Homo sapiens: one gene and its partners. The protein of the gene in region 1 purifies or fractionates together with the protein of each later gene. This does not show direct contact. Each region holds a gene or a part of one and is shown on either strand. Other genes may lie near its edges.

Evidence for each region. The genes of interacting proteins can lie anywhere in the genome.
Region 2: the proteins of MPPE1 (region 1) and UGT8 purify together in Homo sapiens (affinity purification with mass spectrometry; 2 studies listed by BioGRID and IntAct, with this or other methods). This does not show direct contact.
Region 3: the proteins of MPPE1 (region 1) and GINM1 purify together in Homo sapiens (affinity purification with mass spectrometry; 2 studies listed by BioGRID and IntAct, with this or other methods). This does not show direct contact.

Annotation. Positions count from the first base shown.
Region 1 is NC_000018.10:11,891,318-11,898,338, forward strand, and holds part of MPPE1 (metallophosphoesterase 1), read right to left. Parts: intron 6,304-7,021; exon of another isoform or gene 6,209-6,303; intron 6,040-6,208; 5' UTR 5,948-6,039; coding exon 5,667-5,947; intron 3,961-5,666; exon of another isoform or gene 3,868-3,960; intron 2,260-3,867; coding exon 2,151-2,259; intron 1-2,150.
Region 2 is NC_000004.12:114,594,241-114,601,819, reverse strand, and holds the start of UGT8 (2-hydroxyacylsphingosine 1-beta-galactosyltransferase precursor), read right to left. Parts: upstream 3,014-7,579; 5' UTR 2,846-3,013; exon of another isoform or gene 1,945-2,845; intron 1-1,944. UniProt on the Homo sapiens protein: Catalyzes the transfer of galactose to ceramide, a key enzymatic step in the biosynthesis of galactocerebrosides, which are abundant sphingolipids of the myelin membrane of the central nervous system and peripheral nervous system.
Region 3 is NC_000006.12:149,561,944-149,569,387, forward strand, and holds the start of GINM1 (glycoprotein integral membrane protein 1 precursor), read left to right. Parts: upstream 1-4,431; 5' UTR 4,432-4,471; coding exon 4,472-4,591; intron 4,592-7,444.

The sequences.
Region 1 (7,021 bases):
CAAAAATTAGCTGGGTGTGGTGGCGGGTGCCTGTAATCCCAACTACTCGAGGAGGCTGAGGCAGGAGAATCACTTGAACCAGGGAGGCAGAGGTTGTAGTAAGCTGAGATCACGCCACTGCACTCCAGACTTGGTGACAGAGCAAGACACCAGCTGAAAAAAATAAAAAAATATAAAGTTAGAGTAACATAAAATCAGAATAACAGACATAGAAAAACATAAAATGTTGCCCTTAATTTGGAAAAGCAACATATCTATCCAACCTCATTTTGTAACTAGTTGTTTTTACATATAACATTTCCACTATCTCACATTTAATTATAGCCTAGATAATAACAAACATTGCAACTCTGTAAACTGGTTCCTATCAACTCTGAAACAAGACTTCTCTTGTGCAGCTATTGAATTGTCCTAGGAAATGCCAGTAAGGTTTTTTGGATTTTTGTTGTGGGGTTTTTTTTGTTTTGTTTTGTTTTTGTTTGGGTTGTTTGTCTTCCTTGATTTTTATCTTGATTTTTTGAGACAGCGTCTCACTCTGTCACCCAGGATGGAATGCAGTGGTGCACAGCTGACTGTGGCCTTGACCTCCCAGGCTCAAGCGATCCTCCCACTTCAGCCTCCTGAGTAGCGGCGTGCACCATCACGCCTGGCTGATTTTTGTATTTTTTGTAGAAACAGCACTAAGTTGCCCAGGCTGGTTTTGAATTCCTGGGCTCAAACGATCCTCCTGCCTTGGACTAGGTCTGGCGCAGCGGCTCACGCCTATAATCCCAGCACTTTGGGAGGCCAAGGTGGGCAGATTGCCTGAGCTCAGGAGTTCGAGACCAGCCTGGGCAACACAGTGAAACCCCATCTCTACTAAAATACAAAAAATTATCAGGGCATGGTGGTGTGTGCCTGTAATCTCAGCTACTCGAGAGGTTGAGGAGGGAGAATCGCTTGAACCCAGAAGGCGGAGGTTGCAGTGAGCCAAAATCACACCACTGCACTGCAGCCTGGGTGACAGAGTGAGACTCCATCCCCCATAGCACCAAAAAGAAAAAAAAAAAAAAAAGAAAAAGAAAAAGAAAGGGCAGGCACGGTGGCTCATGCCCGTAATCCCAGCACATTGGGAGGCCGAGGTGGGCAGATCACCTGAGGTCAGGAGTTTGAGACCAGCCTGACCAACATGGAGAAACCCTGTCCCTACTAAAAATACAAAATTAGCCGGGCGTGGTGACACAGGAAATGCCTGTAATCCTAGCACACAGGAGGCTGAGGCAGGACAATCGCTTGAACCTGGGAGGCAGAGGTTGCAGTGAGCTGAGATTGCGCCATTGCACTCCAGCCTGGGCAACGAGTGAAACTCCATCTCAAAAAAAAAAAAAAAATCCTCCTGCCTTGGCCTTCCAAAGTGCTGGTACTACGGGCATGTGATGAAGTTTTTTATACTATACCCCAAATTGAAGATTTTCCAAAAACCATTAGTGACTGAACATTTTTAAGCAGCAAGAACAGCTCATGTCTTCATTCGTTTTGTTCCAAGGATATAATAAGCAAAACACTGTGACAACTAAGGTGAGAACAGCTTTTCTCTTTGGTTTGTGGAAAGTCTTATATTACCCCAATACCCAGGCAGGGGTCTCAGCCCCCTCTGAAAGCAGAGGATCCTCACATCAAGTCCCCAGCGCTCCTTCTGCATCTCTCATTCAGAAAAAAGAAAATCAGAGGAGAATAGCAAGTCTCTTTTGCAGCACGATTCTCATAATGTCATGGTTCAATAAGAGTGTGAAATTAAATGTACATTTCAATATGTATTTTGCAATTTCGGTGACAACTGAAATAACATCTATCTTGCCCGTTTCTCCCTTTCCCAAGAGGTTCACAAAACAGTGTATTCCAACTAAATGATATCTGGCTAATCGACATATTTCCTACATAGACAAATGTTTACAATTAGCCAACCTAACTCAAGATTGAGTTGTTCTAATAATCTTAGATAGCCTATGAATTCTAATCATCTTCCAAATAGCCTACGCATTTTTAATATCAGTAGTAAGTACAACTTCCATAAAATCTCCAGCTCAAGCTGACACTGATTCGTGGATTCTCTGGGATACTTGTGCTGGACCTCACAGCAGGATGAGGGCACCTGGAACACAGAGTCCTACCTCAGGGGTGCTCCACTTCCCTTCATCAAAGATATCCCCCAGGATGAAGACGACTTCCGGCTGCAGCAACCACAGAGCTGTCTGGAACGCTCTCTCCATCTGCCATTCCCTTGATGCCAATAGGAAAAAGTAAGGCATCAGTCTCTTTCCTAGGTGGAGGCTACTTCTGTATTATGCACCATTTAAACAGCAAACTAAATGGTTCCACTCTCCTTCTTCCAGAGCCCCACTCTTGCATTCCCATCCCTGGCTTGAAGGGCCAAAGAGTCCATATCTGATTAAAGGTGGGGAATTAAGTATCAGAGAAGAGTCCGGCCATCCCTTCCACACACCCCAGACACTGTGGTGTGCAGGAACAGGCCCCACTCTGCACCCTGCAGCCATCACTCGGTCAAGACAGCAACTGGGATCTGAGAGAGCCTAATGCAGCTTCCAAAGATGCTCAATGTAGACTGATTTTGTACCACACAGAGGAGATTATTGTATCTAGCTTAATTTTAGCTTCTTATTAAAGGGACTTCAACTTCCTTCTTTGCTTCCAAGTTGGAGGGGAGATGACAAGAGAAATAGGCTAGCTAATATCAAAACAGGAACCAATATCAAAACAGGAAATCCTGGAGATTTCAGACATGCGAGTAATCCTCCCAGAGGTAAGACAAGCAAATGAAAAGAGCCTGGAGGCTGGGTATGGTGGCTCATGCCTGTAATCCCAGCACTTTGGGAGGCCGAGGTGGGCAGATCATAAAGTTAGGAGTTCAAGAGCAGCCTGGCCAATATCATGAAACCCTGTCTCTACTAAAAATACAAAAAACCAGCCATGCATGGTGGCATGCGCCTGTGGTACCAGCTACTTGGGAGGCTGAGGCAGGAGAATTGCTTGAACCCAGGAGGCGGAGGTTGCAGTAAGCTGAGATCATGACACTGCACTCACTCCAGCCTGGGTGACAGAGCGAGACTCCATCTCAAAAAAAAAAAAAAAAAAAAAAAACAGCCTGGGATCTGCAATCTGACAGATGATGGCTTAACATCCCAGCTCAATCCATTGAAAAGCTGTGAGGCTTTGAAAAAATTGCCTATTCTGATGCCCAGTGTCTTCATTGGTAAATGGCGATTTTATTTTATTTTATTTATTTATTTTTTGAGATGCAGTTTCGCTCTTGTTGCCCAGGCTGGAGTACAATGGTGTGATCTCGGCTCAATGCGACCTCTGCCTCCCCGTTTCAAATGATTCTTCCGCCTCAGCCTCCCAAGTAGCTGGGATTACAGGCATGTGCCACCACACCCAGCTAATTTTGTATATTTAGTAGAGACGGGGTTTCTCCATGTTGGTCAGGCTGGTCTCGAACTCCTGACCTCTGGTGATCCACCCGCCTCAGCCTCCCAAAAGTGCTGGGATTACAGGCATGAGCCACCACACCCGGCCGGCCGGTAAATGGGGATTTTAAACCCTACTTGCACAGGATAGTTACAGGGTTAAATAAGACAGCATTTGTAAAGCATGGCACAGGCACACAGCAGGTGCTCAAAAATGTCAGTGTTTGCTCAGCCCTCCCCGTCTTCAACCTAACCAAATCCAGCCTATGTCATTTTTCTAAGGAATCCAAACCTTTCCTCCTTTTTAAGGCATTTTCCTGGCTGCTCCTCCTCTACAAAAGGGAAATGCTATGTCCTGGGATATATAAATAGGGGAAAGTAGGCTGGGTGCAGTGACTCACACCTGTAATTTCAATGCTTTGGGAGGCCAAGGAGGGAGGATCACTTGAGGCCAGGAGTTCAAAACCAGCATGGGCAACACAGCAAAACTCCATCTCTACAAAAAAGTAAAAATTAGCTGGGCGTAGTGGCACAAGCCTGTTGTCCTAGCTACTTGGGAGACTGCAGTGAGCTATGATCCTACTACTGCCCTCCAGCCTGGGCAACAGAGCTAGACCCCATTTTAATCAGTCAATGTAATTTCTGGTCAGAGGAAGATTTTTAGATCCCAAGTGAACTGAATGGTACACATCACCCCTGAAAGGCTTTTTACCCAAGATCTCTCTCAAAATACATTTCTCCGTTTTTCTTATTTTATTTTACTTTTTTTTTTTTAGAGACAGGCTCTTGCTCTGTCGCCCAGGCTGGACTGCAGTGCCATGGTCATAGCTCACTGGAGGCTCAAACTCTGGTGCTCAAAGTAGCTCAAGCGATCCTCCTGCCTCAGCCTGCTGAGTCACTAGGACTACAAGCGGGCATAAAGAGCAAAAATTAGCTATTTTTGGTTTTTGTTTATTGTTTTTTTGTAGAAATGAGGTCTTGCCACGTTGCCCAGGCTGGTCTCAAATTCCTGGCCTCAAGCAGTTCTTCACCTCCACCTCCTAAAGTGCTGGGATTACAGGCGTGAAGCACTGCACCCAGCTTCTCAGTCTCTCTTGATTTAATGTTATTCACCATGGGAAGTAAAAATCTAGAAACAGCAGCAGGAAGAAGGTACAGAAGGCTACTTGGCGAGACCAGACATCAATCAGGATCAATTTGTAAGACCAAGACACTGCAGGCCCCCCACCGGCCCTTCTTGAGCTCATGCCTCCTTTGGTTAAAACTCTTAGTAAAAAGGTATAGCTGCTCTTTCATTATTCTTATTCTTTATTCTTTTTTTTTTTTTTTTTTTTTTTTGAGATGGAATCTTGCTCTGTTGCCCAGGCTGGAGTGCAGTGGTGCAATCTCAGCTCACTGCAACCTCTGCCTCCCAGGTTTAAGCGATTCTCCTGCCTCTGCCTCCGGAGTAGCTGAGATTACAGGCGCCCGCCATCATGCTCAGCTAATTTTTCTATTTTTAGTAGAGATGGAGTTGCACCATGTTGGCCAGGCTGGTCTTGAACTCCTGACCTCAGGTGATCCACCTGCCTTGGCCTCCCAAAGTGCTGGGATTACAGGCGTGAGCCAGTGCACCTGGCCTAAAAATAATTTGTTTAAAAAGCTTCCTGGTGAAAAAAACAATGGACCATGCAGGGGCAGGTGTGAGTTGGAAAGATAGGACCTGATCCTTCCCCAGGGTGACAGCCACAAATCTGCTCTGCTCCTCTGCTGCCTAGAGGAGGCTGAAACCCAATAGGCTCAAAGTTACACAGCAATGAAGGTGAGATGGGACCACCAACCCACATCTGTGTCCTCCCCTGCCCAGGGGACCAGTCCCAGGCACCAGGCATTGTGTAGCATCTTGTTGTCATTGCGTGGCACATCTTGTGATGTTTCTTGTCTTAATCCAGTTACAAACAAGGAGGCAGGGGCTCAGAGGGGCCCTAACAACTTGTCCAAAGTCACAAAGCGATGTGGCCCAGATCTGACTCCCAAATTATGGGGCCCTGTATATATCCTCAGTAAATGGTAAATTCAAGGAAAAGTCAAATGTCCCTAAATGTCCTCCTTTGAGAGGAAAATAACTAAGAGTAACCTAAAGCCATAAGCCTTGCCTATGAGGAGAGGGCTATACCGTTTTGCCTACAGAATTTTAGAAAGATTCCTGATTTTACCTCTTACCTTCGTAATTTGTCCAGCCAGTGGCCTAGGAATTCCCCAAGCAAATGGGTGTCAGCCAAAAACATGGCTTTGAGCACAGGCTCACGTGTGGTCTGTTCACCATCAGAGGCTGTGGTTTTCACTTCAGGCCAATTACACTGAAAGATCGCTAAGTAATAGATTAAAAATTCACAAAATAGAAGCACAGCAAAGACAACAGCTATGAGTTTCAACAGCAATGAACTCTTCCTCTTTAATGGATGAAAATTCTGTCTTCCAAACCCCAATTCGATCATCGCCATTTCTCAAGCAACAACAAATCCATCAAGGGTTCACCACGAGAAAACTGCAGAGCCCTGGGGAGGGTGATGGCATTCAGGTCTTAGCTGGGCACCTACGGGAAAAGGAAAAGAATTCAGTTATGTTCCCTAATAATACAGGTATCACGACCTCCCTCTATTAAGAACTAATGAGTTACATAATCCTATCTACATTTCCAAATTAATCGTCTTATACTTTTACAATAATAATATGCCAGATTACTAATAAGGAAAACAACTGACCTCTCTGACTCCTTCAAGCTCTCCATACCTCCGTATGTCAGAATAAAGCTATTAGAATGCTTTTCTCACCAAGATGATAAAGTTTCATTAATATTCTAGAAATCATCAAATGGGAATCCATGAGAATGATGTGTGTCAAGGTAGGAGACATAATGGGAAAATTCAGTATTATTTAAGTGTAATTTTGACTCCCAGGATTCCCCACCACCCCTCCTTGACCTTAAAAATCAACAGGTCACAAGCCGCCTGTAATGTGTTGCTTTTGGTGTTAATTCATCACTTTTCTACTCTGCTTTTCCACAAAATAAGTGAATATTCATGGACAATGTGCTTCAAAGATCCAAGGAATTCATTCCACATTGGACCCAGAGGCCAGGATCTGACAGTGAAACCACCTTTGCAAAATTATAACAGTAACAGAAATCTGACATAGTTGACTCCATCTTGTTTCTGACTGCCAAGATGTCCTTGGTCATTCCTGGATATAGGCCAAGCTAACTTTGGGAGAAATTTGGTTTATAGGTTTTTGTTTGTTTGTTTTGTTTTGTTTTGTTTTGTTTTTGAAATGGGGTCTCCCCTGTCACCCAGGCTGGAGTGCAGTGGTGTGATCTGGGCTCACTGCAACCTCCGCCTCCTGGGTTCAAGTGATTCTCATGCCTCGGCCTCCCAAGTAGCTGGGATTGCAGGCACTCGTCACCACGTCCAGCTAATTTTTGTATTTTTTTTAGCAGAGACGGTTTTTCGCCATGTTGGCCAGGCTAGTCTCAAACTCCTGACCTCAAATGAACCACCTGCCTCAACCTCCCAAAGTGC
Region 2 (7,579 bases), on another chromosome or scaffold:
AGAATGGTACTTCTGTCTCTATTCTAGTATTTCAACCCAGCAGGCTGAGACCATTTACTATAAACAAAAACAGCTCTATACACCTCAGCGAATAGCACTATTCAATTCTTTATGAATTCATAAAGACAACCCAACAAGAAAGAATAACTTATATCCAATATTCTCCAAGGGAACAAGGAAGACAGTAAGATTTAGAAATTGCTTGTGGGTTATAATGGCTCTTTTTTTTTAAGTTTCAGTAATAAACGGTGTGAAGAGTCAGCTACCGAGAAAATGTGCTTATGTAAATAAGTACCAATGCAGATGAGGTCAAATAAATGAGATACTATATCTTGCATAAATAATCAAAGTTCTCACTCTCCAAGGATATCTTAGAAATTCCCAGGTGTATGTTGGAAAATCCTAGTATGAATTAAAAAGCAACAAATTGATATTATTTGATAAACAGGTGCATGATTTTAAAAAGGATTTGAGGATTGAAGATGGGATTTTTAGCAATATTTAAATGGTAATGAAGCTGATAGTTGTTCATAAGGTGCAATAAAATGTTTTAATTTAAATTATTGGGAAATGTAAACTGTCAAAATCTTTAAACGAAAAGTAGTTTTTATCCAAAAAAATTGTCATAAGCATCTTTATTTACTGCATTGGTTTATTTATTCTAAGACGCGTACCAAGCTTAAATACAACAAGCATAGTCCTCTGGAAATCTTAGATTTAAAAAGAGTTTGAACCTGTATAGTAGTATTACCTGGAAAAAGTCAGAAGTATAGTTTCTGTTCAGTTATGCCCAACCTCCTAATAGAGTATCAAGCCTTTACTAAATATCGGGGCACTATGCTTTATTGTAGTTTTTAAAGACTTGTATAATACTAAGTCACACAACACTAGATGTCAACTTAACCTTGTAGGTGGCAGGCAAATCATACAATACTAGAGTGTTTTTCTCTGGCATTATCTAGAAGAGTTGCTGAACACAGACACATTCCTAAAGCAAAACCTCAAACCACCAAGAGACAGTTTCTATAGGAGAAAACTAAGCTGGCTAAGATTTAATTCAAGTAACACAAAGTTCTGGTCTCCTTTACCATATAATATTAAGATGCATGACTCTAATTTTAAAATCTCCTGGGGACAAAGTATGGTTACTCTTAACACTATTAAAATATTGGTTAAAGATAACCATTGGGTACTGGGCTTAATAACTGAGTGATGAAATAATATGTAAAACAAACCCCTGTGACATGTGTTTACCTATGTAACAACCCTTCACATGTACCCCAAAACCTAAAATAAAAGTTTTTAAAAAAGAAAAGAAAAAAGGGCACTTTCTATCCTTCCTTCAAATGGTGGTGATTTTTTTCTGGGGATATGTCAGAAGCACGCCAATTTTGAGTGAATATAGACGTTTTTGAACATGAAATTATCAGAAATGATAACAATTTGGCATCTAGCCAAACTCCCTAACATTCACGTCATTGATACTGAAAAACTGGTAGTACAAGGTGACAGCCTGAGGGGACTGAAGATTTTTGGAGTATTTGGAGTAGTGTGGTTTTTTTCTAATTTTTACCAATAGGATCCCCAGAAATAAAAGACTCTATCGTCACTGCTAACACTGGCTCATAATAAAGGTGATTCTCCAGAGCACGCCTGGTTTGATACCGCCACCCACTCCTTCCCTTGGCGACATTTTCCTGCTAAGAACGCCTAGTTAGCGCAATCCAGCCATTCGCGTTAGTTCTCAGAACTCTCTCAGAAGTTCTCTACCTTCTCTCCTCTCCCCGCCTAGATGCTGAAAGGTGATGGGAACTCGCGGTACAGGTACAGAGGCTATTCCTTTCCTAAGGAAGTGCTGCACAATGGCAGGTTTACCGTACTCAATTTTATAAACCCTCAATTAAACCAGAAAGCTTGTATATAGAGATTGGGTACCCCGCCCACCTCCTCAGATTGTCCTTTTGCCCCGACGCACTGCATCTACTTGCACTCTCCGATGCGGTTTGCCTCCTTCAAATCCAAAACACACATACCAGGCTCCCTCGCCGCTCCTCCAGTCCATGGAAGGCGCCCTTCTTTTTGCCAGCAGCGCGTCCTTCTCTCCCCGCCCGCAGGCGCTCACCTCTTCTCTAATCCCGGGGGCCCGCACAGGCTTCTCTAATGCAAGGGCACCCCGTACCATTCCCAAATCGGCGCGGGGACCCGTGAAACCCTGCCACCACTGTACACTGTCCATTGTCGAGAGTCGCGCGGGCACGCGGAAACGGCGGGCCCCGAAAAGTCTCAGCGAGCTTGTACAGCCCCAAGACATTCCCCACCCCCAACACATCCCGCTCTTGTTCCTCCTTAGGGGGAAGACGGAGTAAAGGGGAGTTGAAGAGGTCCCGAAGCTCCTCCTGGTCCCCCACCTCCATCCCTGCCCTGGCAGCTGGCTCTGGCCTCTGGGCTCCGCGGTGCCCATCCCTTCAGGGGTCAAGTACAAGGTCCTCGGCCGAATCGCCTCCCCGTTATACCCTCCCTCTGCCTTGAGCGCACAAACGCGAGAGAACCCTCGAACGGATGCCATATGGCAGAAACAGGATCGCGGGCGCTATGAGGGGCCAGCCTAAAAAGATCTCCTTCACACCCCCTCAACCCCTAGCCTTTCTCCCTACCCCGCCAACCCCCACTAACCACTTCTAACTTCCTCAGCCCAACCCTGTCTGTGCTTTCTAATTCCCACCCCCCCGCCCCTGGACAGCAGCCATTCGCCCGGCACTCACCTCAGGGAGCAAACAACGCCCCTCTCCTCCACCCAGACCGCCCCCCCTTCCGCCCTCTGGAACGGCGTGGTCCCTCCGCTCACCTCGTCTCTTGGCTGCCCCGCGCGAGTTTGAGTGTGTGTCTGCCGCGTAATTGTATCCGGGACAGAAGGGACCTGTGTTTGTGCGCTGAATCAGGTGTCGCCGCCTTCGGTGGTTCGGGGGCGTAAGGGAGGCTTCGGAGTTAGCGTGTTGGCTAAGGAGGGCTCTCTGGGTTCACAGTTGATAGCAATGCTTTAACCGTGTCCTCCCTCGGGTCCTCAGCGCGCCTGCTCGTCCGCAGCTCCCAGCGGGCGGCCAGGCCCCCCGCCCCCCAGCCGCGCCCCGCCCTGCGTGCGGCGAGCAGAGTCGGAGCGCGCCGCTGCCCTTCCGCACTTGGCTCAGCGGGGCACGACACGGGCCGCCACGCGCTCAGCCTAGCATCACTCGCCTCTGACTGCGAGCGCCTCCAGCTCCCCGGGCTGGGGCATGGATGCAGACGCGCCTTCGTACCACGCGCTCGCAGGCTGGGCAAGGGGCAGCGCGTTGGGATCCGGCCAGTCGTCCGCTGAGCGAGGTTGGCTTGCAGGCTGGGACTTTTCGCGAGCCCTCTGGGCGCTCGAGTTGCGAACTCTGACAACGGCACGTGGCCCCGCCCACTCTTCCCTCTTTGCGAGGCGTGTCCCGCGCCCTTTCTGCCACCACCCACGTAGTCCCTGTGCCCGCCTTTTATCATCAAGGCGGCTCAGTGAGCTCTGCGTGTTGATGTCGCGCCTTTTCTCATCTTCCTGCCTTTCCTGCCTCACTTCTGCTGAATCCATTCAAAAGTTATACTTGGGCAAGTGGGTGGAGGAGTTAGGAAAATTAAAAGAGGGATGCTTAGGTGAGCAGGTACCTGCACTGCCGCCAACCCAGGCTTCAATTCTGGCTCTCTTGTAGCGGAAAGCCTTAAAAAACGCGAGTTTGGGGATCCTGAAAAAAAGTAAATAGGGTTGCTGGGCTGAATAACATCCCTCCTCTCAGGCTCCTGCTGAAAGGGCCATTCATGATTTGCCTGGTTGAGCCTGTGGCGACTTTATTCTGACGAATCTGCCTTTGCCAGCAGCATAACCTTGCCAAGTTGGCGTCTTGACCAGCAAGCAACTGTGCCCAAGGAAGCCTCTCTGTGGTGCCTCAGACCTGAGAGGCCGAGTGCCTTTGAGCGCCTGAGGTAGATTGTGAGTTTCATGAAAACCGAGAAAGTCTAAGTGTGCATGTGCGTAAGATATTTTATATATATATATCTCATATATATATGAGATATGTCTATATAACGTGGACTGAATTGTTTATTGTTTATGTTTCGTGTCGAGCATAAATTCCAGAAGCTAAGATGCTTCCATAGCACACAAACGTTATGCGTTTAAACGTTGGAAATCAAAAATGCCATGTCAGGTCATTCTGTCCTTGTTCCAAAGTGAGATTCAGAAATAGGTTGGGATTTTCTGCCCTTAGATAAGAAAACGGAAATTATATTTTACTGTATATGTTATCAGTTAATGATAAATTAAAAAACTAATATACACTGCTGTTATTGTAAAATCCATATGCTCAAGAATGTTCATGGATGGAGAGATCTTCAAATGCCATTTCAAAAAAGAAAATGCACTTTTCTTCTTTGCAGATTAGGAATTTGAACATATTCCCTGTGCAAAATGCAGGGAATATTTTCACAGCCTTTGTACCTGATTACCATACTCTCTATTTATTTCTTATTTAAATTGCACTAGAAAACCTAAAGTAAATGAAATGTAACATAATAAAGAAAAGAGAATTTAGACATTTACTTTAAAAGCTTTATTTCTCAAAGGTCAAGCTTCAGTTTCAAGCTACTGTTTGATGATGCATATGTAAATTCTTGGTAAAAACTTGATCATTAGCAATTAAAACAACTTTTTTCTTTTATTATATAAAAATGTTTAAAATTGTTTCACCACATCCTTGTCCTTAAAATGGTGTAAACTGACCATTGTGTAAGGTTTTTGTCAGATTTTTGGATAGAAAAGGAGTATATATTATGTGTAGATATGTCCATGTTTATTGTTTCTCTAATCTATCTATTTTTGTCCACATTAAATACTGATTATTGAATTTCTCACAGCTCTACACAGTAAGGGTGTTCCATAATGTAAAACAAGTTTATTCAATCATCATATGAATAGTTGAAATACACTTTTGGAGTTTGAAATGATAAAAGCAAGAAATCAGTGAGGTTCATTTCACCGCCCCACCCCACTTTTCCTTTTTTTAATGCTCCCACCTTTAATTGTTAACATTATTGGCTAAGTGGTTGAATAAATGAATAATGAAAACATTTGCTACTTCTCTTTAAGGAAGGATGCATATTTTCCATATTTAATGTATCCTTCAAGCTCCCATTCAGATTAAACAAGATTCTCCCTATCATCTTTAGTTTATAGAATGTTGAATGGGACAGCATAGCCTGCAGTGAGAAAGTTTCAGCCAATGTGGAGTATGGTATTAAAATTCCCTCATTATTTCTGTGGACTATATATATCAGTATTCTCAATTGTTATTTTTTTCAGAAATACTTGTTATAATTATTCACCCCATATAACTTTATTGGAAAATATAAACAACCATATGTGAGATATTATATAAGTTTTGTAATCATTCACCATTAACTCTGGGATCAGACTTCCTAGAATTTGAAGAAGAAATTAATGAAATCAAACGTAACTTAATAGTAGTAGTAATAGAAATTTTAAAATCCTCTTAAAGTTTCTGCAAAGTGTGATCCCTGCCCCCTTACACTCAAGTTAAAGGAGAATGTTAACAGCCTGTCCTGTCTCTGTGGACAGTGGACCTTATCTATACTCCCCAACTCCAAATTACTCAAGTTTATTACAGGCCAGCAAGCTCCTGCACAGCTGCAGTCACAAGACCAATAAGTTTAGGTTGCAAGACATGTTTTTCTCAAGATGTAAGAAATGTTGTAATGCTTGATTAACTGCCTTTGTTTCTCGCTTCTGTAACTTGCTTCCCACCTCATGTAGTTCCTGCCTTAAAATGTTTAAAAGTAGGAAAAGCCCTTAGTTTGGGGCTCATACTTTCTGGACATATGTCCGGCTGGGCCGGTGATCACCTTAATAGACTCTCCTGAACCTTTTTCAGTCTCTCCAGTCTTTGATTGTCTTGTAACATTTCTGGGGGCTCATCCGGGATTGGAGAGGGAACATTTTCTGTCTCCTTTGCCTGTGGGCTACAGCCCCAGGACATGGGAGATCTGGGGTCCTTGGCACCACCAGGAGAGTTTCAGCCCAGAAGGAGAACTGCCCTCCCGCGTTCTGGGGCCTTCCCCCGACAGCACAAATGGAACCAGTGGAAGGGGTTGCAGGATGGTCACGGGAGCAGCGCACAGCCATCTGAACCACGGTAAAGTTTGGGCCCTAAGGCAAGACCCGTCCCATAAGGACGGAAGGGGAGCCTGATCATCTCCCAGGGCATGATGACTGATCTGACCCGAGGGGGTTGGGACAATGGGAGAGGCCCATTGATTCAGACAAAACTCACGCCCTAACCGACACCAGATGCAGGTGGGGCTCGCACGTCAGTCAGAAAGGAAAACAGTTTCAGGGACGGGGGAGGTGTGTGAGACAGTCTCAGGAGAGACCAATGCGGGGTGTGACATGGGGAGGCACAGATCTCTTAGCATGCACTGTGTGCTCTGAGGCGAGTGTGGGAAAAACCAGACCTAGAACACTGCATACAGCCCATAGGACCAGCTGTATGGCTGCAGCTAGCTGTAACAGGAATTAAGGTACTCTCCTGGCTAAGCAGCATCCACCATGGCTGCAGCTAGCTGTAACAGGAATGAAGGCACTCTCCTGGCTAAGCAGCATCCGAACCTCCCATAATAGGACCTGGTCTGGTGGATCCAAGAGTGAAAGTGACAGTGAAAGCATGCCGTGAGGGAAGAAATGGGAGGAAAAGCATCAAAGCCTACTCCACTGGAGTGCATGCTGAAAAACTTTTACAAAAGGTTTAAATGGTGATTAAATGGTTAAGCTAACTCCACAGAAACTGAGAACCTTTTGTGAGATAAACCGGCTGTCTTTTAATGTAGGGTGGCTGGCCGAGGGGACAATACACAAGGAGATAATTGGCCAAGTGTTTCAGGTGGTCACTGGGCTTGGAGAATAGCCCAGGCACCCAGATCAGTTCCCGTATACAGACTCCCAGCTAAGTGTAATTCAGACCCGCCCTAAGTGGCTGCAGACCTGCTTTGAGACCTACCATAAGACTTTAATGGCTTGGACAAAACCAGGAACAATAGAAAGAGACTGCAAGTCATCAGAAAAAGAAAAAGAGTCACAGGAAAAGCAGAAAAAACCTGTCCTACAGGCCCCATCTGAAGAGTTAGAAACTCTACCCCCTATGCACCAATTTATCCATCCTTGGCAAGGCTTAGACAGGAGGCTGCCCTGGCTGCCTCTGGAGGCTCAGACTCAGAAGAAAGCATCCCTCAGGCAACACCACGCAGACAGAAGTCAGAGCCCTTACCTGAAAACCCAAGGGAGGAATTCCAGGGGGATGAGGTTGGCTATCTTAGGTCAGGTCATGCCCAAGCAATGCAGATGTCCCTCCGATAAACATGGGGACAAATTTATTTGAATGCACAGAATGAAGTCCAAGGGGGAGAATGGCTCTTCATTTATCAGCCCTTCTCTACTACTGATCTCTGAAATAGGAGACAACATACTCCCTCCTATACAGAAAAGCCTCAGGCTCTTATAGAT
Region 3 (7,444 bases), on another chromosome or scaffold:
CTCGACCTCCTGACCTCGTGATCCGCCTGCCTCAGCCTCCCAAAGTTCTGGGATTACAGGGGTGAGCCACCGCGCCCGGCCCTTTAATCTTTTATCTTCAGGATTTTTATTAGGGTACCAAATATTAAATTATAGTATGATTTTTAGCATCCTTGAGTACAAACGTCTCTGCAGATTTTCAGGTTGTTGAAACTAGTTAGCTGAGGGAGCAGAGAGCAGGGTCTGCATCTTGGCCCTGGAGCCCCTCTAGCTCCTGTGATGGTGGAGAAGGCATAGCTCTCTTACACTTTACTGTTTCTCCATTTCTCCCAACACAGCTTATATATATATATATATATATATATATATATATATATATATATATATATATATATTTTTTTTTTTTTTTTTTAAGACGAAGTTTCACTCTTGTTGCCCAGGCTGGAGTGCAATGGCGCGATCTCGGCTCACCGCAACCTCTGCCTCCCGGGTTCAAGCAATTCTCCCGCCCCAGCCTCCTGAGTACCTGGGATTACAGGCATGCGCCACCACGCCCAGCTAATTTTTGTGTTGTTAATAGAGACGGGGTTTCTTGAACTCCCGGCTGGCCTCGAACTCCCGACCTCAGGTGATCCGCCTGCCTCCACCTCCCAAAGTGCAACCCAGCTCATATTTTTAGAAAGCTAATGAGTAGAATAATTTATAATCATCTCTATAAATGTATATAAATTAACTAAATGCCTTTTGTTTCATTATACTGTGTTGGCTTAGAATGCCAGAGTTTAAAACCACAGCTTCATCATTTACTGTTCTGTAACTCAGAGAAAAACACTTAATTTCTATAAATTTCTGTTTTGTATATAAAAATGGGATAATAAATTGTAATCATGTCATTAGGCTGTTATAAGGTTTAAATAATATACATAAAGCACTTAACACAATTAGCATAATAAATGCTGGCTACTACAATGATAATATTTCTATGAGTTGTTCTTCATATGAGAGGCATCACCCATCATTATGAGCTAATTAAATTCATTCATAAATATATGGACAAGAAAGTTACAGCAAAAGCAGTTTTAAAATATTTTAGGCCAGGCACAGTGGCTCATGACTGTAATCCCAGCACTTTGGGAGGCCGAGGCAGGTGGATCACCTGAGTTCAGGAGTTTGAGACCAGCCTGGCCAACGTGGTGAAACTCCGTCTCTATTAAAAATACAAAAATTAGCTGGGCGTGGTGGTGGGCACCTGTTATCCCAGCTACTTGGGAGGTTGAGGCAGGAGAATCGCTTGAACCTGGGAGGAGGAGGTTGCGTGAGCTGAGATTGTGCCATTGCACCCTAGCCTTGGTGACAAGAATGAAACTCTTGTCTCAAAAAAAAAAAAAAAAAAAAAAAGTGGCTCATGCCTGTAATCCCAACATTTTGGAAGGCCGAGGCAGGAGGATTGCTTCAGCTCAGGAATTCAAGACCAACCTGGGCAAGCTAGCAAGCCCTCGTCTTCACTTAAAAAAAAAAATTAGCAGGGCATGGGGGCATGTGCCTACAGTCCCAGCTACTCAGGAGTCTGAGGTAGGAAGATGGCTTCAGCTCAGGAGGTCAAGGCTGCAGTGAGCCATGATCTATCTTGCCATGGCACTCCAGCCTGGGTGTCAAAGCAAGACCCTGTCTCAAAAAAATAAAATATAATATCTTTGTTTCTTGCTCTCCCTCTTGTCATCTTCTAGGGGTCTTTCAAAAAGTTCAAAAATATGTAGATGACTAACTCTGGAAAATACTGGAGTAGACTGTGTTGTAATAGAAGTGCAGTGACTCACTCACTCCCAGAAACTGGAAACAGATACAAATCAGGTCCCAGATTTCCTTTTGGCATCAAGCCTGCTTTAAATTGCAGAAAAAGATGGACTCAAATTTTGATTGTGGGAATGATGAAAATGACAATGAAATCGGCTACTGAAAAAGGAAATATATCAAGGTTTGGAATCAAAAGGTATTATCTGGTGAAAGAATAAAGACATTTTAATATATACTTTGTTTTCTGTAGTATTAGAAATATTTTAGAATATCTTCTCCTATATGAAAGATTACCTTCAAAGAAGAGAAAGCATCTAATGTGCACAGAACCGCAGTGGGTTGCTGTCAGGCAACTTGAACTCTTTTTATGATAGAGGATATCAAGTTGACATGAGCTGACTCAAAGGAACATCAAAGTACTCACCGTATTAACATTGACAGATTTATTTGTCGTGTAAGCAACTGCCAAGTTAATTCTGTCTTTTGTTTCTCAGATTAATGTGAAGGCTCAGTAAACCAAGCTGAGTTTTCCAATGGACAAGTGGAACTCAGCCACAAAGCTTGTTTAAAGTTTTGTTGTAACTCATTAGAGTTGTGGTATGGTGCTTTTTCCCCAAATGATGGGGTTTTTTAAATGAAATTCCGTAGCGCTCATGGGTGCATGTAGCAAAACAATGGCCTAAAGAGAACCATTTCATACAAAACAGTAAAATTTTTGATTATTAAATAATACTGTCAACCACTTAGACATTATTTGTCCAACAAACCCCCACTGAGGGCTTACTCTAGCAAGCTGTTTGCTTTAAGGTTTGGCCACCCTCTTCCTGGAGCTCACATCTATCTGACGAGACAGATAAACAATAAAGAATAATGGACAGTTAGACCATGGGAAAGGCTTTGTAAGAAAACAGAGAGCCTCAACTTTACCTATTATCTTTTCATATAGACGTACTTTGTAACCTTATATTACTAATTCAAATTATACAGATCCACATGTCATGTTTTCTGACTTCCAGATTCTTTTTTTTTTTTTTGGAGACGGAGTCTCGCTCCACCGCGCAGGCTGGAGTGCAATGGCGCGATCTTGGCTCACTGCAACCTTCGCCTCCTGGGTTCAAGCGATTCTCCTGCCTCAGCCTCCCTAGTAGCTGGAATTACAGGTGCGTGCCAGTATGCCTGGATAATTTTTGTATTTTTAGTAGAGATGGGGTTTCACCATGTTGGCCAGGCTATTCTCGAACTCCTGACCTCAAGTGATCCACCCGCCTCGGCCTCCTAAAGTGTTGGGATTACAGGCGTGAGCCACTGCACCCGGCTTCTAGATTCCTTTTTTTTTTTTTTTTTTTAATAGACTCAGGCGATCCTCCTGCCTGCGTTTGCTGCATAGCTGGGAGTACAGGCACAAATGACCACGCCCATCTCCAAATTCATTTTTAATTCCAGCAGTAGGAAAAAAAGGAAAAGGCCAAGTTTGCAGATGGAACCCAGAAGTGTGTGGGGCTTCGCTGTGAAATCACTTGTAGCTTAACAATGGCGTGGGGAATCTCAGAGTAAGCCCGGAGTTAGTTGAAAGGAGTCTTTAGCCAAAACGTTTATAATTTATTCTGGGGCGGGGCCGGGGGAGGGGGCGGTGGCGGTCAGCAGGCCTGTGGGAGGAGGGTGTTCAAAGGAGTAAAGGGGGCTCAAAGAGAGAAATAGATTCTTGTTTCCTTTTTCATGTCAAAAGTTTTATTTCATGTCAAAAGTTTTATTTCAAAGGAAGACTAAATATTACTCTTATTCTGCCTGAATGGCCAAGTTTCCAAGTTTTTCTCAATCAACATGCAATCCTGTTAATCTAAAATGCTTGAATTTCTTGCTACTCTGCTTTACAGGGTTCCGTAACTTTTTTTTTTTTTTAAATCTGCAAGGTGGAAGAAAAGTCTAACACTTTCACTTTAGAGTTACGATACTGACCAAAAAGGCACTGACAGCCCAGGTGCGCTGGCTTCCTTCCAGCTGAGCGCTGTCCCCGCGCCGCCTCCAGGGGTCGGCAGAATGCTGAACAGTAAGCATGGCGCATCCTCAACCTTGGCCCCACAATGAATCACCCGAGAAAATTAAAAAACCACCAGGGCCCGAGCCGCAGCCCAGGCTGGAAAGTGGGGTGTTCAGGAAGACCCCAGTACTTTTTAAAGCTGCCCGGGAGAGTCCCACGTGCAGCCAAGGGTGGGGAATTACCCACTTAATAAAAACTTCCCCTGTAAATGCGATGTTTCATTTTTAATGTATAACAGTTTTCTGAAATATTACCGTTGTTTTCATCGTATAGGTACATGTACATGTGCACACACAGACACATGCATGTGTGTAAATACTAATTTTAAAAATAATGGTTACGAGGACATTTACATCGCTCCAGTTGGAGTCCTGTCCAATCCTGAGGGCGGGTCTAATGAGGGGCCGTACCTTCCAAGATTTCACTCCGCCCCTCGACGCCGCGCGGCGCTGCGCGTGCGCAAACGCCTTTCCCTGGCGAGCCGGATCTCGGAGCGTCCCCGCGCCTCTCCGCGGCCGCCCGGGGAGGGGAGGGCCCGTCCCGCCCCTCCCCGTCTCTCCCCGCCCCTCCCCGTCCCTCCCGCCGAAGCTCCGTCCCGCCCGCGGGCCGGCTCCGCCCTCACCTCCCGGCCGCGGCTGCCCTCTGCCCGGGTTGTCCAAGATGGAGGGCGCTCCACCGGGGTCGCTCGCCCTCCGGCTCCTGCTGTTCGTGGCGCTACCCGCCTCCGGCTGGCTGACGACGGGCGCCCCCGAGCCGCCGCCGCTGTCCGGAGCCCCACAGGTAGGGCAGGGCGGGCCTGGCTGGCCGCTTTACGACTCCGACTCTCCGGGAGGCCCGGGCTGTCCACAGTGACGCTTCCCACATCCCACCGGCGGGCAGGGGCGGGGGTCCGGGCCCCCGAAGGAGGTGTGGGGAGAAGCACCCCAGGAAATGGGGGCGGCGTGGGAGGCCGAGGTAAGAGGAAAGGGACCCACTGGGGCTGCGTCGCTGTGAGTGAGCCTCGAGCCACTCCACACCGACTCTCCGGCGGCCCAAGCCGGCGCGCGACCTGACGGGGCTTTGCCGTCGAAGCGCGCGGTTGCCGGTGATCAGGCCTTCGTAATGGCGCCTTCCCGGGGTAGAGCCAGCGCTTGGGCAAGGAATGTTTGTGTGCTCGGGAAGTGTGGAAGTTGCCCACTTCGCGCATTTCCAGGCCACTTGTGCCTGCTCGGCCTGCGATCGCGAGGGTCCGCCGTTCCGAGGCTGCGGGGCTCCGCCGGGCTCAGGTGGGCAGAGGGAGAGACCTGGCCCTCGCGCGACGTAATGTTTTTGTCGGATGTTGGAGGAGAAGTTCTCACGGCGGGGCGCGATCGGCGGTGTCCGCATCCCCTGGGGACTCAGCCCGGCCTCTGGGGGCGGGGCCCAGCAGTCCGGGTTGGAGAGTCCTGCAGGTGCTTCTGATGCCAGCTGAGGTGGGAGAATCGAGGCATCCTAACATTAAAACGTGGCTGATGCTCACCATTCCTGCCGTAGAGTCGTGCCTACCTAGGCCAGTATCAGCCTTTTTTCAGTAGAATGGTAGGGAAAAGTTTGAATATTTTAAAGAGCAAGTGTTCTGAGAATGACAAGAAACTATGTCGGTACACCTCTTCCTAGTCAAGACTTGAATATGAACACTCTAAATACAAAGGCGAAGGGCACGGTAAGTGTCACTTTGACCAACAAGGTGAAACCCCGTCTCTACTAAAAATAGAAAAATTAGCTGGGCGTGGTTGCAGGTGCCTGTAGTCCCAGCTACTCGGGAGGCGGAGACAGGAGAATTGCTTGAACCCGGGAGGCAGAGGTTGCAGTGAGCCGAGATCGTGCCACTGCATTCCAGCCTGGGTGAGGGAGCTCAAAACAAAACAAACAAACAAAAACAAAAAAACCAAGTGTTAACGTTTTAGGATAATGACATTACCCCACGTGGGTACAAAAATGATGAGCATGTCTCAGTTCTGCAGGGCATTCCAAGAAGCCACGACATTGCCTGCCATAAGAACCACCTATATCTGAAATTATATGTGGACCACAGTTGCATCTGGTTAAACAATAGGAATGTGATGGACAGGCACCAAGGGACCAAATAAAAGTGAAATAGTTCTAAAAAGTTCTGGAAATACGGACATTATTTTCCTATTTTTCAAGTTTTAAAGATTCATAATTGACACCTATGTGTCAATGAGATGTTTACGTCTATATAATCTGCGAAAAATACATTTTGACTGCAGGCTTAAAATACACTGCATTGTCGGCTGGCTCTTAGTGATGATTTTACTATTTCAGTTCTCCCTTCTTGGGCCTTCATTTCACTTTCAGAAAGTCCAGATCTAAACTCGGAAATTCACATATTACGCTGGGTGCAGTGGCTCACGCCTGTAATCCCAGCTACTGGGAATCCAAAGCCAGAGGATTGCCTGAGACCAAGAGTTGGGTGTTGGATGATAAGCCTGGTTAACATAGCAAGAGCCTGTCTCAACAACAAAAAGTTTCACAGATTAAATGAGTGCTGAACAACTAGAAAGAGAATCTCATTACCTGGACTGTGTCTGTGGGAAACTGAAGTCCCTTGATCTAAGTCTTCTCAACGTCTTATTGTGAAACATTTCCAATAGGAAAGAATTTCACAGTGGTCCCACATATTGTGTAAGTGCTGTCCAGTAGAACTTTCTGCCTTGATGGTTATGTCTTTTCTCACCTTGTGGGTAGCCACTAGACTGCTGTGGCCACTGAGCACTTGAAATGTGGCCAGTGCCAGTGAGGAACTGTTTTTAAATTTTTATTTAATTTTAATCAATGTAAATGTAAATAGTCACAAGTGATTAGTGTGTACCATATTGAACAGTGCAGAACCAGACTACCCTTAACATTACTAGCTTTATCACATCTGTCCATCCTCGTTTCCAGTCTGATATAAATTAAACTGGTTGAAGTCAGGAAAATTCTGCCTTCTTCCGATGACTCAGATTTATTGGACTATAAGCATTTTTCTGTTTTTATGTATGCAGTTGTCAGAAGTTGAGGTAATACAAGATTGCACATAAGATTGAAAAATAAAAGTCTTTTTTTTTTTGAGACGGAATATCTCGCTCTGTCTCACACAGGCTGGAGTGCAGTGGCATGATCTCGGCTCACTGCAGCCTCTGCCTCCCAGGTTCAAGTGATTCTCCTATCTCAGCCTCCTGAGTAGCTGGTACTACTGGCGCGTGCCACCACACCTGGCTAGTTTTTGTATTTTTATTTTTATTTTTTTATTTTTTGTTTTTTATTTTTGAGAGAGAGTCTCACTCTGTCTCCCAGGCTGGAGTGCACTGGCATGATCTCGGCTCACTGCAACTTCTGCCTCCTGGGTTCAGGTTCAAGTGATTCTCCTGCCTCAGCTTCCCAAGTAGCTGGGATTACAGGCTCCCGCCACTGCGCCCAGCTAATTTTTTTATATTTTTAGTAGAGATGGGGTTTCACCATGTTGGCTAGGTTGGTCTCGAACTCCTGACCTCAAGTGATCCACCCGCCTCAGCCTTCCAAAGTGCTGGGATTACAGGTGTGAGCCACTGCGCCCGGTCACTTTTTTTTTTTTTTTTTGACGTGAAGTCTCGCTCTGTCCCCCATCCTGCA